Linked DNA regions of Homo sapiens. The protein of the gene in region 1 binds, or shares a complex with, the protein of each later gene. Each region holds a gene or a part of one and is shown in the gene's direction. Other genes may lie near its edges. The genes, in order: GHRHR and GHRH.

Region 1 (7,825 bases):
CGCCACTGCACTCCAGCCTGGGCAACAGAGCAAGACTCCGTCTCAAAAAAAAAAAAAAAAAAAAAAAGCCTGTAGCAGCAGACCATCCACATCAATTTGTGAGGAAAAGAATTAATTTGGTCATTCCCTAATTGAAGAGGACTGATGATTAATGGCAGAAACAATAGCCAACACCATAGACATCTCAATCAGTTCACTCTACACAATTCCAGCAGAAAAATTAAAGTTGGGCAAACTTCCCAACTGATGGTTGCCAAAAGCATTGCACCCAGATCAACTGGAGACACGAGCAGAGATTTCAGCAGAAATTTTAAACAAGTAGGTCAAGATCCTGAAACATTTCTTCAAAGATTTGTAAGAGAAGATGAAGGATGGCTTTGCCAGTACAATGTTGAAGACAAAGCATGATCAAAGCAATGACTACAAAGAGGTAGAAGTGGTCCTGTCAAAGCAAAAGCAGACCGGTCAAGAGCAAAATTCATGATGAAAACAGTTTTGGGGATGCTTGAGGTATTTTGCAGGTTGACTTTCTGGGGAGCCAAAGAACGATAACATCTGCTTATTGTGAAAATGTTTTGAGATAGCCAAAGCTTTAGCAGAAAAATGCCCAGGAAACCTTCACTAGAGAATCCTTCTCCACCACCACAATACTCCTGTTCATTCTTCTCATCAAACAAGGCCAGTTTTGCGAGAGTTTTGATAGGAAATCATTACACATCCACCTCACAGCCATGATTTGGCTTTTCATGATGTCTTTTTGTTTTCTAATCTTAAAAAATCTTTTAAGGGCACTCATTTTTCTTTAGGTAGTAATGTAAAAAAGACTGCATTGACATGGCTAAATTCCCAGGACTCTCAGTGTTTTAGGGATGGATTACATGGTTGGTATCATTGCTTACAAAAGTGTCTTGAAAGCTTATGTTGAGAAATAAAGTTTATATTTTTTATTTTTTAATTCCATATTTCCATGAACTTTGTGAAATCCTCTTGTACAAATAGATTTAGTTCATACCTTTTAACCGCTCAGTAGTATTCCATTGTATGAATAGATCACATTTTGTTTAGCTATTCCTTTCTCATTGGACAATTGTGTTGTTTTCTGGTTTTTACTACATGTTATAAACAACACTGAACTCAGAACGCAAATACCCAGAACTGGAATTTCTGGCTTATAGGGTATGTTCATTCTTAAATTCATTAGATAATATCAAATTGTTTTTCAAAGTGGTTATACAAAATTCACTCTCATCTGCCATTTATGAATGCTCCCATTTCTTTACATTATCTTCCAGACACTGTGTTATCAGACATTAAAGTTTTAGGCAATGTATTAGGTGAAAATGGGTAGCTTATTATTATTTTTATTTTCATATTCTTTAGTATTAGGAATGTTAAACATTTCTTCATCTGTTTATTGGCCTGTATATTTCACTTCTTTTCTGAATTGTCTATTTGTATCATTTGCTCACTTTTCTGAGTTATTTTTATCTTTCTTACTGATTTTTTTCTCTTCTTTCTTTTTTTTTTTGTGACATAGTCTCACTCTGTTGCCCAGGCTGGAGTGCAGTGGCACGATCTTGGCTTACTGCAGACTCCACCTCCCAGGTTCAAGGGATTCTCCTGCCTCAGCCTCCTGAGTAGCTGGAACTACAGTTGTGCACCACCAGGCCTGGCTAATTTTTGTATTTTCAGTAGAGACAAGGGTTCACCATATTGGCCAGGCTGACCTGGTGATCCGCCCGCCTTGGCCTCCCAAAGTGCTGGGATTACTGGCGTGAGCCACCACGACCAGCTGATTTTTAGATATTTTTAAAATACATTTTTGATACTACAGATTTGTTTGTCAGGATTGGTTGCAAATATTTCTTTCAGTTTGTAGCAGAAAAATGCTTTTAGTTTTCATCTATGGCATCCTCTCTTGAACATACATTTTAAAATGTTAATGTGGTCACACTTGATTTTTTTCTTTACGATTTTTATTTTATATGACACTCTCCTTTATTCTAAGGCCATAAACATGAATTTCTATTTTTTGAAGCATTTTTATGATTTTGTTGTTTTATAATTAGGATTTTTAACCTAGAATCTATATTTTGTAAATGTGAGCTAGAGATTCAATCTTATTTTTTTGTACAAAGAATCAGCTGTTCCAATCTTACTTGCTGTTAGTCCATCTTTGTTACATGCTGTCATAAATGATTGCCCACTGGATCTAGGCTCTGTATGAGGTTCTTTATAGTACACGGCTTTCCTTGTCCACTTATCCCACCAATCCTATAAGGAAGGTGTTAGTATCATCCCCACTTTTCAGATGGGAAAACGGAGGCTCATATGGTTTGAATGTTTTGTTCTCTCCAAATCTTATGTTGAAATAGACCTGCATTGTTGGAGGTGGGGCCTGGTGGGAGGTGTTTGCGTCATGGGGGTGGGTCCCTCATGAATGGCTTGGTGCCCTCCCCATGGTAATGAGTGAGTTCTCACTCTGCTAGTTCATGCAAGAGTTAGTAGTTTTAAAGAGCCAGCCAGACATCTCCCTTGCTCTCTTGCTCCCTCTCTCACCATGTGATACACCAGGGGTTCCCCCTTCACCTTCCAGCATGAATGGAAGCTTCTTGAGGCCCTCACCAGAAGCAGATGCCAGTGCCATGCTTCCTGTGCAGTCTGCAGAACTGTGAGCCGCAATAAACCTCTTTTTAAAAATATAATACCAAGCCTTGGGTATTCCCTTATAGCAATACAAATGTACTAACACAGAGGTTCAGAAAGGCTAAATGACTTGCCAAATGTATGACAGCTAGCAAGTGATGGAGGCAGAATTTGAATCCTGAGTGTATACAGAATTAGCTAGAGAAGACAGCTCCATGAAGAAACAGGCCTGCAGGGATCCTTGGGGAACATGTACAGTTAGAGCAGGGTTTCTCAGCCTTGGTCTTATTGATCTTTGAGACTGGATAATTCTTCATATGATCAAGGGTGGGGGCATCCTGTGCATTGTAGATGCTTAATAGCATCCCTGGTCTCTACTCATTCGATACCAGGAGCAACTCACCACCCCACTCCTCACCCTAACTCCTAGTTTTTATTTTGATAACAAAAAATGTCTCCAGACATTGCCAAATGTCCCCTAGGGAAGCAAAATTGCTCCAGGTTAGGAACCACTCGTTTAGACAGTAATAACTATTATTAATTATCACTATCAACCTCAATAATTAGCCATCATTAATGCTAATGATATTGATGCTAATTATCAACAGTGATTAATCGTAAGACTTTTTTTTCCTGGTGCTGTTGCTTCTTTGTAGCTGAGGAACAGAAGGTTCTAGCTTTCCCTTCAAGTTATACCTTTTCAGCACTCTGCTTTTCCAACCCGTGAGCTCTCAGCCTGCCAAGAGAGGAGCTCTGCTCTCCCCTAAAAGTGTAAAAGTGTGCAGAGCTCTGTGTGGCATGCTGCTTGCACCCATTTCACAGTTAAGCTCATGAAAACACTTGCACAGGATAGGAGGGTTTTGGAGCTTGGGGTGGTTCATGTTTTTGTTTCGAAATATTTTTTTTTCAGTATTTTGTTGACAATGAAGAAAAATGGAAAAATAAACCCCTGCTGATGTCAAAATAAGCCCTAAATCCAGATGTAGCGGGGGCGAGGAGCCTTCAACATTCATGATGTGATCGGGCTGTAAACATGTCTGGTGTTCTAGCACGCAGCCCAGCAGCTTCTGTGAGTGGAGACGTGCACACAAACATCAGGACCTGTCGGCTACTGGGATATTCAGGTCTTTCAGAGGTGACATCTTTGACATTTCAAAGTGCTGTGCAAGATCCAGGGGCATTTAGAACACTGTCTTTAGCCTGGCCAATGGAGACCCTGCATTTTAAAGTCTAAAACTATAATAAAAGTGACCAGGCAATGAATGTTCAATATAGTTTGCTGTGTAAGTCTTCTCATTTCTGCTACCGATGAGAGTTGTCCTCCCCCTATTCAAGATGGCTTGACCCATGAATCCTTCACAAGGCTTCCAACCAACCTCATTTTCCCCTTTTGCCGTGAGAGTTTTGGAGAGATTTTGATAAGCCCCCATGTGAAATCCAGAGCCTTGATGCTTGCAGCTTCAGCTCACCATCCAGGCCAGCGTCCTTGCCCAGTAAAGGACCCAGGTCTTGCTGAAATGACACATTCCTGGCCAGCCCATGCCAGTGCTTACAGATCATACTTCCTTTCCTAAGACCATTCCAACCCTCCATCTCCACTAATACCATACCCTTCCCCTTCCCCACCAGTTCCACACAGCTCTGACCTCACTCTCCAGCCCTGTGGATGAGGCTAGGAGCACACATCAAATAACCTGGGAGCTTCCCAAGGGCAGGCCCAGGTCCCCTTCCTATTCTTTAAGATCCCATCAATCTGAGGGGTCACTCCAATGATGGCCACCAGAGACCTGGGCTTAGAGAAGAAAGTGGTAGAGAATATTGACCAAGTGACCTGTGGCTGTCACCTCTCTGGGCCCTTGCTATCAGGACAGACACACAAGCAGACTTATAGCCAGAGTAGAAGGCGATGAGGGTGGGGGCTCAGCCCCTGCCTGCTGGAAACAGAGTCCCACCTCAGGGTCAATGCTGAGCTGGGCAGGTGTCCTGCAATCCTGGTGAATATTCAGCGGTCTGTGTCCCCTTGGCTAGCTCCTGCCTATGCAAACAGCCACCTGAGAAGGGGAAGCAGAGGGTGCGGTGGAAACGGCTGTGTCAGGGGACAGCAGGGGAAGGAAGATAGCCAAGGCTTACTGAGGCTGGTGGAGGGAGCCACTGCTGGGCTCACCATGGACCGCCGGATGTGGGGGGCCCACGTCTTCTGCGTGTTGAGCCCGTTACCGACCGTGAGTAGCCAGCTGAGACCCTCTGGCCTCTGCCACTGGGCTCCAGATTTGGGAGCCACAGGGCCAACTGGAGCCTGGCGGAGACCCTACTGCCCTTCTCCTGCTCTAGAGTCCCTCCCTACGAGCAGGTGGCAGGCTGTGGCTTGGAGAGCCCCTGACACTGGGGCTCCCTCCCTCATCTCCCTCTGCCCAGCAATCTGTAGTGACTCTGGGTAGTGCTATTAACATGTCCTTCCAGGGGCTGAGCTGAGCTCACCTTCTTGTTGCTTCCCCCAGGGCCTGGCTGTGCCTCTGGGGGCCACAGAGACTCTGTCTGCCACAAGACAGTGCCTCAGAATTGGTGAGGCAAAGTCAGGCTCCCCTCTTAGTCCCTGCAGTTTGCTCTTTCTCTCAGCTGTGCACCTGTGATGCTTCCACACGCTCCTGTGGTAAGCTTTCTGGACCCTTCCTTAGCCCTATGACTCCCTGAGCCACTCTCCAGTTTGGTGGTTTCCTTTGAAGAGGGTGTGGCCAGGGAAGGAATGGAACCTAAGGAGTTGGTGGAGACCAGCTGCTTCTGCTCCAGCACTTAGGGGATCCATCATCTTCTCACGATGCTGAGGGCTGGAGAGGCTTTTGGCAACCAAATTGTACTCCATGGGCTAGAGCGCTGGAGCACGGGGCATCAGGAGAGAGGGCCCTTCCTGAATGGGCTGCAGTTTCCCAGTAACTTTCCAGGAGGTTACTGCAAGTGACAGCAGGGACCAGGCTGGGAGTCACAAGGTTCTGGGATGGTGAGGGCCTGAAGCATTCTTCCTCCGCTGCCTTATTGGAGGGTGCTGCCCCTCCCGAGCACCTTGCTGCACCTGCTCCTGAGTGCACAGGCTTTGAGCTTGAATCCTGGACGCATGAAACTAGCCGTGTGAACTGCAAGTTCCTCAGCCTTCCTGAGTCTTGCTTTTATCTCTTTTGTTAAAAGAGAAAATATCCGCTGGCCCGGGTCACTGTGCATTGAGTGGAATCTGATTTGTCAAGGGCTGGGCATAGGGGTGCAACACAGGAAACTTCGACTGCCCCCCTGTCTGCCATCTGTGTGCACTCTACAGCAAAAGCTTTATTTTTAGCAGGGGTACCCAAGATCTGGTGGTGGCCATTCAGCAGATGGTGCTAGTACCAAAGCTAGAACTCAATCACTGTTTGCCAGTGTGGGCATCATCCCCTGCAGATACCAGGAAGAGCAGCAGGCATAGATGCAAGGCCTGGGGGTCCAGGGCGATGGAGCCTCCCCTCAGGGGTGGGTGGGGTCCACGATGTGTGTGGGGGGGTGACTGGGAGCCCCAGGATGTGTTTCGCCAGTCCTAATTCAGCAGGAGCATTTGGATAAATCTTAGAACGATCTATCCTTCCACTCCCACCACTTCCCTCCCTAGAATCTCTCCTTACATCTGGCCCTATGCCCACACATCCTGAGTCATTAGTGGGGCTTCTCTGAATTTCCCTCCTTCTCTTAGAGGTGTGGGCACTGTCTGTTCATCCTTTTGGCATGAGGCTGCTCTCCTGGCATCCTTTGCCCTCAGTTGCTTCCCCAAATTGGCCCTGAAAAGTTTCCCAGGCAGGGTTGGGGCTTGCCAGACTGTGCAGTAGGCAGAAGGATAGGCAGAGACCACAGCTCTTCCAACAGCCCAGGGTCAATATCAGGCTGATGGTGTGAGAAAGTCCCATACAGGCCCATCTGCCCTCCTGCTCTTCCTTCCCCGCTTTGTGCGCTCAGTCTGTTGGGAGATGTAGGGGAGACGCAACGGGGCTCTGCCCTGAGATGGACCTGAGGTTACTGAGTCCTCGGGAGGAAGCCAAGAGCTGAGTCCGGGGCACCCACCAAAATAAGACCTGGAGCCTGGGTAGTGGGTGACATCTGCACCCTGGGGCCTTGCAGGGCCAGGCAGGAGATGGCAGAGCTGCGTCCAAGCCATGGACCCATGGGGTCAGCAGGGCGGGACAGGAGTGACTTCTCCTGCCAGGGTAGCACTGGTGGGGGTGACCCTCCTTACTGGGCTGGCTCTCCAGATTTTCTCCTATCCCACAAATCTGCGGCAGAGCTCTCGGGTCTCTCCACGTGGTCACCCACCATCTATTGTCCCCACTCTGGTGGTCAAAGTCTCTACTCTCTGACCCCAGCCCTGGTCTTACATCTGCTACACTATTTGCTGTGCCTGCATTTCTCCCAAAGAACACTAGCTGTTAATTAAACATTTGCTGACATGGATCCTGCTAGACATTGAGGGTGTGTGTGTGTGGGGTGGGGGTGGGGGCCATGGGGAGAGAAACATTAGTCCTGAGCTGATACTTCCCAAATACACCTTTTCCCACTTCCCTTGTCCTTGCACATGCTGTGCTTTCTGTTCCAGATGCTCTTCTCCCCACTGTGTGTGTCTGGCTCTAAAAAATGCTCCCTTGTCCCCAGGTCCAGCTCAAATGCCACCTCCCCAATCCCTGTGAGAGGGACATTCCCTCCCATGGTACCTGTCTTGCTTCTTTTTGTTTTTTTTTTGTTTTTCTGAGATGGAGTCTCACTTTATCGCCCAGGCTGGAGTACAGTGGCACAATCTCAGCTCACTGTAACCTCCGCCTCCTGGGTTCAAGTGATTCTCCTGCCTCAGCCTCCTGAGTAGCTGGGATTACAGGAGCGTGTCATCACACCCAGCTAATTTTTGTATTTTTGTAGAGATAGTGTTTTGCCACATTGGTCAGGCTGGTGTTTAACTCCTGACGTCAGGTGATCCGCCTACCTTGGCCTCCCAAAGTGCTGGGATTACAGGCATGAGCCACTGCGCCCGGCCCCTGTCCTGCTTCTGATCACAGTTTGCGCAGGGTCTATTAGGATCCAGCCCTTCTCCCTTCCCCAGCCCCTCCTCTCCTGTGAAAGCCTGGGGGAACAGACATCTACACTGGTTGACTTGGATGTGTGTTTTATACAAAAA
Region 2 (7,725 bases), on another chromosome or scaffold:
CAGCGAGCTGAGATTGTGCCACTGCACTCCAGCCTATGTGACAGCAAGACCCTGTCTCAAAAAAAAAAAAAGTTCGTAGCAGCATAATTCATACTAGCCCCAAACTGGAATCAACCCAAATGTCCATCAAGGTGAATGGGTAAACAAACAGTCATACATCCATACAATGGAATAAAAAGGAACAAACTATTAATACCTGGATCAACATGGATGAAGGTCAAACATTATGCTGAGTGAAAGAAGCCTGACACCAAAAAGTGCGTATTTTATTTGATTTATTATGATTTACTCATCATATAAAAGATTCCATTTATAGGAATTTCCTAGCAAAGGAAAAACTGTAAGACAGCAGATTAGGGGTTGCCTAGGGCAGGGGGCAAGAGTGGAGACTGAGAGCAAATGGGCTAGAGGGAATTTTTGGAGGGACAGAAGCATTCCAAAACAGGATTGTGGCAATGGTGGCACCACCGTATAAATGTATGAAAGCTCATGGAGCCATAGACTTAAAACCAGTGAGCTTTATGATATGTTAACTCTTTTTTGTTTGTTTATTTGTTTTTTAGATGGAGTCTCCCTCTGTCGCCCAAGATGGAGCACAGTGGCGCGATCTTGGCTCCCTGCAACCTCCACCTCCCTGGTTCAAGCAATTCCCCTGCCTCAGCCTCCCGAGTAGCTGGGATTACAGGCGCATGCCACCACGCCCGCCTAATTTTTTTGTATTTTTAGTAGAGACAGGGTCTCACCATGTTGGCCAGATTGGTCTCGAACTCCTGACCTCAGGCAATCCGCCTGCCTCGGCCTCCCAAAGTGCTGAGATTACAGGTGTAAGCCACCACGCCCGGCCAAACTGTTGAAGTTCTTTTTAAAAAAAAAAAAAAAAAAATTAGAACTGGTAGGCCCAGGAAGGGCCTTAGTGTGGGGCAAACAAATTGGAAATCAGAAAACTTTTTTTTCCTTTTTTTTTCAATAGAGACAAGGTGTCACTCCATTGCCCAGGCTGGAGTACGGAAGCACGAACATAGCTCACTGCAGCCTCTAACTCCTGGGCTCAAGTGATCCTCCTGCCTCAGCCTCCTGAGTAGCTGGGGCTGTAAGGAAGTCAGAAAACATGTTTGAGTCATAGCTCTTCCAGCTACTGACTAGCTCTGTGGCTGTGGCTGAGCACGTAACCTTTCATGCCTGTTTCCTCATTTACCGCAATGACAAGAACAGCAATTATCAAAGCTAAATTGTGAGCTCTGCCCTATGCCAGGTCTGCCCTTTATGCAATGTCACAATAATTCTCACCCAAGAGCCTCATAAGTTGAGCTCTATCACTCCCATTTTACAAATAAGAAAACTGAGATAGGGCGTGAAGTCTGTAGCACAATGCCTGGCACAGAGTTTCAACCGAGGCTGGATTCTGAGCCCCATGGCTTCTCCGGCCAACTCCATGTAACCTGCATCTGTGCCCTGGACCAGCGTCCACTCTGGGTGCCCAGCTCTGCATGGTCCCCACTTTGCATTTCCAGGAGTTACCCCACACTTCCTGACTGTGCGAGAGCCCATAGCCCTGGGGCTCCCAACTGCTTCGTCTGCTCCCTGCTGCTGTGACCTGCACTTTTTTTTTTTAAATAATATTTGAGTTCTGGCCAGGACAACATAGTGAGATCTCATCTCTACTAAAAATAAACAAAATTAGCTGGGCATGGTGGCGTGCAACTGCAGTCCCAGCTACTCAGGAGGCTGAGGTTGGGGACTGCTTGAGCCTAGGAGGTCAAGGCTGCAGTGAGCTGAGATCTCACCACTACACTCTAGCCTGAGCGAGACCCTGTCTCCAAAAAATTAAGTAAATAAAATAATAATAATAATAATTAATTTAAAGCTATCAACCCATTTATTTTTATTTTTATTTTTATTTATTTATTTATTTTATTTATTTTTTTGAGACGGAGTCTCACTCTGTCACCCAGGCTGGAGTGCAGTGGCACCATCTTGGTTCACTGCAAGCTCCGCCTCCTGGGTCCTGAGCCATTCTTCTGCCTCAGCCTCCCGAGTAGCTGGGACCACAGGCACCCACCACCACGCCCGGCTAATTTTTTGTATTTTTAATAGAGACGGGATTTCACCATGTTAGCCAGAATGATCTCGATCTCCTGACCTCGTGAGCCGCCCGCCTCAGCCTCCCAAGGTGCTGGGATTACAGACGTGAACCACCACGCCCTGTTTTTATTTATTTTTTTTTTTGAGACAGAGTCTCACTCTGTTGTTCAAGCTGAAGTGCAGCGGCGCCATCTCGGCTCACACCAACCTCTGCCTCTGGGGCTTAAGCTATTCTTGTGCCTCAGCCTCCCCAGTAGCTGGGATTACAGGCACATGCCACTACACCCAGCTAATTTTTTTGTATTTTAGTAGAGACGGGGTTTCACCATGTTGCCCAGAGTGGTCACGAACTCCTGAGCTCAGGCAGTCCGCCTGCCTCGGCCTCCCAAAGTGCTGGGGTTACAGGCATGAGCCACCGCACCTGGCCACTATCAGCCCATTCTTAATCCTTGGGGATCTGGCCTGACCTGACCACTTCGTATCCTGGCCAGCAAGGTGACATACCACTCAAGCCTTGCTTCTATGAGAAACATCTCATATTTGCTAGATGCCAAGAACATGGCTCAGTGCAGGCTAAGAAGGAGAACCACAAAATAGTGTTGCTAAGGGGACTCTTGGAAATTACTGGCTTGTAATTGTGACCCATCGAGGTACCTCAGGGATAGGCAAGGGGGTCTCCACTTCCCCCTCTTCAACCAGAGTAGCCCCATATTAAAAACCTGTCTCTGTAGGTTTCCAAAGAAAGAGTTTTGCTACTTTTTAAAAAATGTTTGGGCTGGGTGTGGTGGCTCACACCTGTCATCCCAGTGCTTTGGGAGGCAGAAGCACGTGGATCACCTGAGGTCAGAAGTTTGAGACCAACCTGGCCAACATGGTGAAATCCCATCTCTACTAAAATACAAAACTTAGCCAGGCGTGGTGGTACGCACCTGTAATCCCAGCTACTCTGGAGGCTAAGGCAGGAGAATCATTTGAACCCGGGAGGTGGAGGTTGCAATGAGTCGAGATTATGCCACTGCACTCCAACCTGGGTGGCAAAGATAGGATCCCTCTCAAAAAAATAGTTTGAAAGTTGCTGTTCTATGTCAACTCTCAAGTTTCCAGGTAGAAACTGAGGCCCGGAGGGTAGAAGTTTTTTTTCTTTTTTTGAGACAGAGTCTCGCTCTGTCGCCCAGGCTGGAGTGCAGTGGCACGATCTCGGCTCACTGCAACCTCCACCTCCCGGGTTCAAGCAATTCTCCTGCCTCAGCCTCCTGAGTAGCTGGGATTACAGGTGCCCACTACCACACCCAGCTAATTTTTGTATTTTTAGTAGAGACGGGGTTTCACCATGTTGGTCAGGCTGGTCTCGAACCCCTGACCTCATGATCCACCCGCCTCAGCCTCCCAAAGTGCTGGGATTACAGGTGTGAGCCACTGCACCCAGCCAGGTAGAAGTAACTTCCTAAGGGTCACAGAGGTCATGATTGACAGGCTTGGGAGAGGCAGCAGGTCCCTAGACTCGAGGCTTGGAGCTCTTTCCACACCTCCACGACGGCCGCCTGGGAAACCAGAGCTTCTGCCTCCTGTGCTTTTATGTCATTCCTGAGGATTTCTTAGCTATAGGCTAGAGAAATCTGGAAACACAACAACTCTCCCAAGGTTTTCCATCTCTTCCCTCTCATTTCACACTTCTCTGAGGCAACTGCCAATGTCTGGCTGCCTTGACAGGTGACGACGGATGCCCCCAGGCTAGCTGTTGAAATCAGCCTGTGACCAAGCAGGTGTAAATCAAATAGTGCAGAATTCTGATAATTGGACGACAAGGGAGATAGGGAACAAATTCCCCACTAAGGAGAGAATAACGCTTATTCATAATGTTGTCTACCCAAAAGTGAAATAAAATTACACAGGGACAAAGCTAAATTATATGAACTTTTGAAAAGGCACATTTATCTTGGAGAATCAATAAACTCTTGGTGTTTCACTGTTATGAGTTCTCCAATTATTTTTAACACATATTTTTTCTTTTTTTAAAAAATATATATTTTGAGATAGAGTCGTGCTCTGTCACCCAGGCTGGAGTGCCATAGCGTGGTCTTGGCTCACTGCAACCTCCGCCTCCCAGGCTCAGGTGACACTCTTGCCTCAGCCACCTGAGTAGCTGGGACTATACCCATGTGCCAACATGCCCAGCTAATTTTTAATTTTTTTCTAGAGACAGGGTCTCATTATGTTGCCCAGGTTGGTCTCAAACTTCTGAGCTCAGGCAATCCACCCGCCTCAGCCTCCCAAAGTGCTAGGATGGCAGGTGTGAGCCACCGCGCCCAGCCGAGTTCTCCAATCACTATTATAGCAGTATATATTCTCTATATCCTCTTGGAATAATGTTACACCTTTGTACTATGTCCACTGTGCCAAAGATAAAAGGAGACTTTACCAGGAGTCTAAGTCTGCAAGGGGCCAAACCTCTTTCACCAACAGGGTTTGTCAGTGTGATATGATGCTAAAAACAGTCCTTTGGTTGACTTGTGGGTAATTGATTCTCTGACGCTGACAACGCTTAGGAAAATGAAGAGATAAATGATGGGAACGCCAGGCGGCTGCCAGAGCAAACACCCAGCCCAGGGCCCCTGGATTTGAGCAGTGCCTCGGAGCAGAGGGATATCTGCCGCATCAGGTGAGAGGGGTGGCCCTGGGGGGGCTAGGCTGGGTGGGGGTAAGAAAAGTTAACCTTCTCACCAACTTAGAAACACTGAGTCCAAGAGGCCCACCGCCATCCTCTTTGCCCATGGACTGGTGAGTACATTTGAGCCCCTCTCTGGATAAAATCACCCCTCAATAGGGGCTCTGGAATAGGCTTTTGATGGTGCTGTTTGGGGCTTGTCTTAACTTGGGCGCGTGGCGGACTGGCTCCAGGTGTCTGTCGCAGGTGGTGAGGTCTCAGTGCTCCTTCGAGGATGCGTGGGCAGGCTTCGGGGGCAAACGTGAGTTGGCTCGATTTTCCTGTCAGCGATGGGATTCTGCCATGGATCAGAGATGAGCCAAGTGGCTGTGCAAATCAATACTGCTCATTGATCACTCAGAACTGATTCAATGTAATTGCCGGGAAATTGATAACATTTTGCTTTCTTGCTCAATTGCAGCCACACTCTTTACTCCAGGTTTTAGACACAATTATCTGCCTTTGGAGTCCTCCGCTACCCCACGCCTGTCTCCTGATCCTTGCTTTAATGGTCCTGAAGTATTTGTGTCTTTCACCATAGACTGCCTCAAACCCCTTCTGGAAGGAGGTGGAGTGTCACTCTTTTGAATGACAGTTCAAGATGCTTCCTCATTAAAAACTTAGATTTCTTTTAACTTGGAATGCTGTCACTGAAACAGTTTATAAACCAGATCAGGAAGTCTATGCTTTGGGGTGCTCAAATTTCAAAGGGGGATATTCAAGGAAGGTTAAAGATGTTCTTTCCCTGGGTTTTCAAAAATGGCCTTGCGAATTTGGGTGCTTGAGACCTGACCTCTGTCAGCTGCAGGTGAATCTGCAGAATTCTCCTGGCATTCCTGGCATGAAAGCTGGCAAAAGGTGCCAACGGATGTAGATCAAGTGCCCGTTTATCCTGAATCCAGGCAATCTCAAGTACATCTAATCCCAGAATCAGTAAGCACTGCAGGAAGCTAACCGATGATCATAATGATAGATTATAAACTCTGGAGTGCCTTCAGTCATCAGGGTTGCCAGCAATGCTGTTGGGCTCGGCTACACTTCATTCAGTGAATTTTGACTCCTTAAGTTGTCATGTGGAATGTGTCTGTTGACAGCTATTTTATTTTATTCTTTGAGATGGGGTCTTGCTCTGACATTTAGGCTACTGTGCAGTGGCACTATCATGGATCACTGCAGCCTTAACCTCCCGGGCTCAAGCAATCCTCCCACATCAGCCTCCAGAGTAGCTGGGACTACAGGCATGCGCCACCATGCCTAGATAAGTTTTTTTTTGTTTTGTTTTGTGTGTTTTTTTTTTTGTAGAGATGGGGTCTCGCCATGTTGCTCAGGCTGGAGCTATTTTATCCTTAGTGACATAACCTCTATTCTTCTTATCTTACCCTACACTGGATAATTCTTGTTTCCCATTTTCATCCAGTGGGATCTGCAAACCCATGGATTCGGTTCTCATAGCTCAGAGGTTGCTGTGGGGTCTTGACCTATGCCTGGGGCACAGGATTTGTGGCAAATGTTGAGCCTCTTGGTTAACTTGTGCAGTTGCTGAGCCTTATCTTGAATGAGCGGGGTATTGTGTTTACTATGACTTGCCCTCCCCACCAAAGTCTGCCCTCCTATGAGGTTGTTTCAACTCCCTGAAACTACTGGGTGTGCATAGGGAGGGGCCAATCAAGCAGGTGTTCCTGTTTGTCCCTGTTCTTTCTTCCCCAGAGGCCCAACAACAAAGAGCAAGAAGCTTTCCTTTTTTTCAGACCCTTTCCCACGTGCAGGTGATGGAGGCTGAGGATCCCTGTGAATGGGGAATACTGTGAATAGAGCATTGTACCTGGGAGGCTGCTGCATGGAGCGGAAGGAAGTCTGCCGGCCTGGGAATGAGGAGGCCCACTCTGAAGTGCCCACTCCAAAACTAATTTGATGGAGGATCATGGAAAATGTCCTTGTCCTCTCTAGGCTCTTTTCCTTGGCTGTAAGAGGAGCATGGGGATGCCTGCTCCAGAGGGAGAGTGCAAGGATGGGTTGTGGAGCCTGATAGGGCACAGGGGCTGGGAATCACTTGTGCCAGCCCTTGGGAGAAGGGGCAGGCAGAGGGAGAGCTTAAGCCAAGAGAAGGGGTTTGAGCTTTATTCTGGAAGGAGTGGGGAGCCAAGGGCTTCTGAGCAGGGGAGGGAGGTGATTGGGGACCTAGATCTGCCTGAATCTTTAAAAGATCAGCAGCAAAGAAGGCAAGAAAGCCAGGCTGCAGCTGGGAGACAGAAAAGGCAGTGGTTTCTGTCAAGGGGCCCTGCTTGCATCCAGAGATCTCTCGGCTTAGGAAATTCCACTTCTGGAGAGGCAGCCTGGACCAGGTGGGGAGAAGGGGGACCAGACGTGGTATGGTGCGATGAGGAGGACGGAAGCCTGCCGAGCCTTGGTCTGAGGAACAAAAGCTTAAGTCAGACATGCGGAACATATCTAAAGGACCAGTCGTGTGGCTGTAGGTGCAGAGGCTCCAGCCCAGCAGGCGGATGTTACACAGCCAGCCCTCGGGGTAGATCCCGTGTTCTCATCTTTTCTCTAGCCCCAGTCCTTACCGGAACAGTAGAGGCTTAACAAACATTTGCAGGAGAAGGAGATTTGGGCTTGACATGGTGAGACAAACTTCCTAACAATAAGAACTGCCTGGGCCTGGCATTGTGGCTCATGCCTATAAGCTCAACTCTTTGGGAGGCTGAGGCGGGGGGATCACTTAAGCCCGGGGGTTTGAAACCAGCCTCGGCAATATAGTGAGACTTTATCTTTACAAAAAATTTCAAAATTAGCTGGGCATGATGGCACATGCCTGCTGTCCCAGCTACTCAGGAGGCTGAGGCAGGAGGATTGCTTGAGCCCAGGAGTTTGAGGCTGTAGTGAGCTATGATTGCACCACTGCACCTCAGCCTGGGCCACAGAGTGAGACCCGCTCT

What was found.
Region 2: the proteins of GHRHR (region 1) and GHRH are in contact, whole or in part, in a cryo-EM structure (PDB 7CZ5), measured with the Homo sapiens proteins. Residues at the interface, in NP_000814.2 of Homo sapiens: Leu119, Ala120, Glu122, Glu123, Phe126, Ser127, Val129, Lys130, Tyr133, Val179, Lys182, Leu186, Phe187, Asp190, Thr192, Asp193, His194, Cys195, Phe197, His210, Thr213, Phe217, Ala271, Cys272, Asp274, Leu275, Asp276, Trp282, Ile285, Ile289; in NP_066567.1 of Homo sapiens: Tyr32, Ala33, Asp34, Ala35, Ile36, Phe37, Thr38, Asn39, Ser40, Tyr41, Arg42, Val44, Leu45, Gly46, Gln47, Leu48, Ser49, Ala50, Leu53.

What each region holds. Positions count from the first base shown.
Region 1 is NC_000007.14:30,959,258-30,967,082, forward strand, and holds the start of GHRHR (growth hormone-releasing hormone receptor precursor), read left to right. Parts: upstream 1-4,695; 5' UTR 4,696-4,811; coding exon 4,812-4,868; intron 4,869-7,825.
Region 2 is NC_000020.11:37,258,759-37,266,483, reverse strand, and holds the start of GHRH (somatoliberin isoform 1 preproprotein), read left to right. Parts: upstream 1-4,669; 5' UTR 4,670-4,741; intron 4,742-7,725. UniProt on the Homo sapiens protein: GRF is released by the hypothalamus and acts on the adenohypophyse to stimulate the secretion of growth hormone.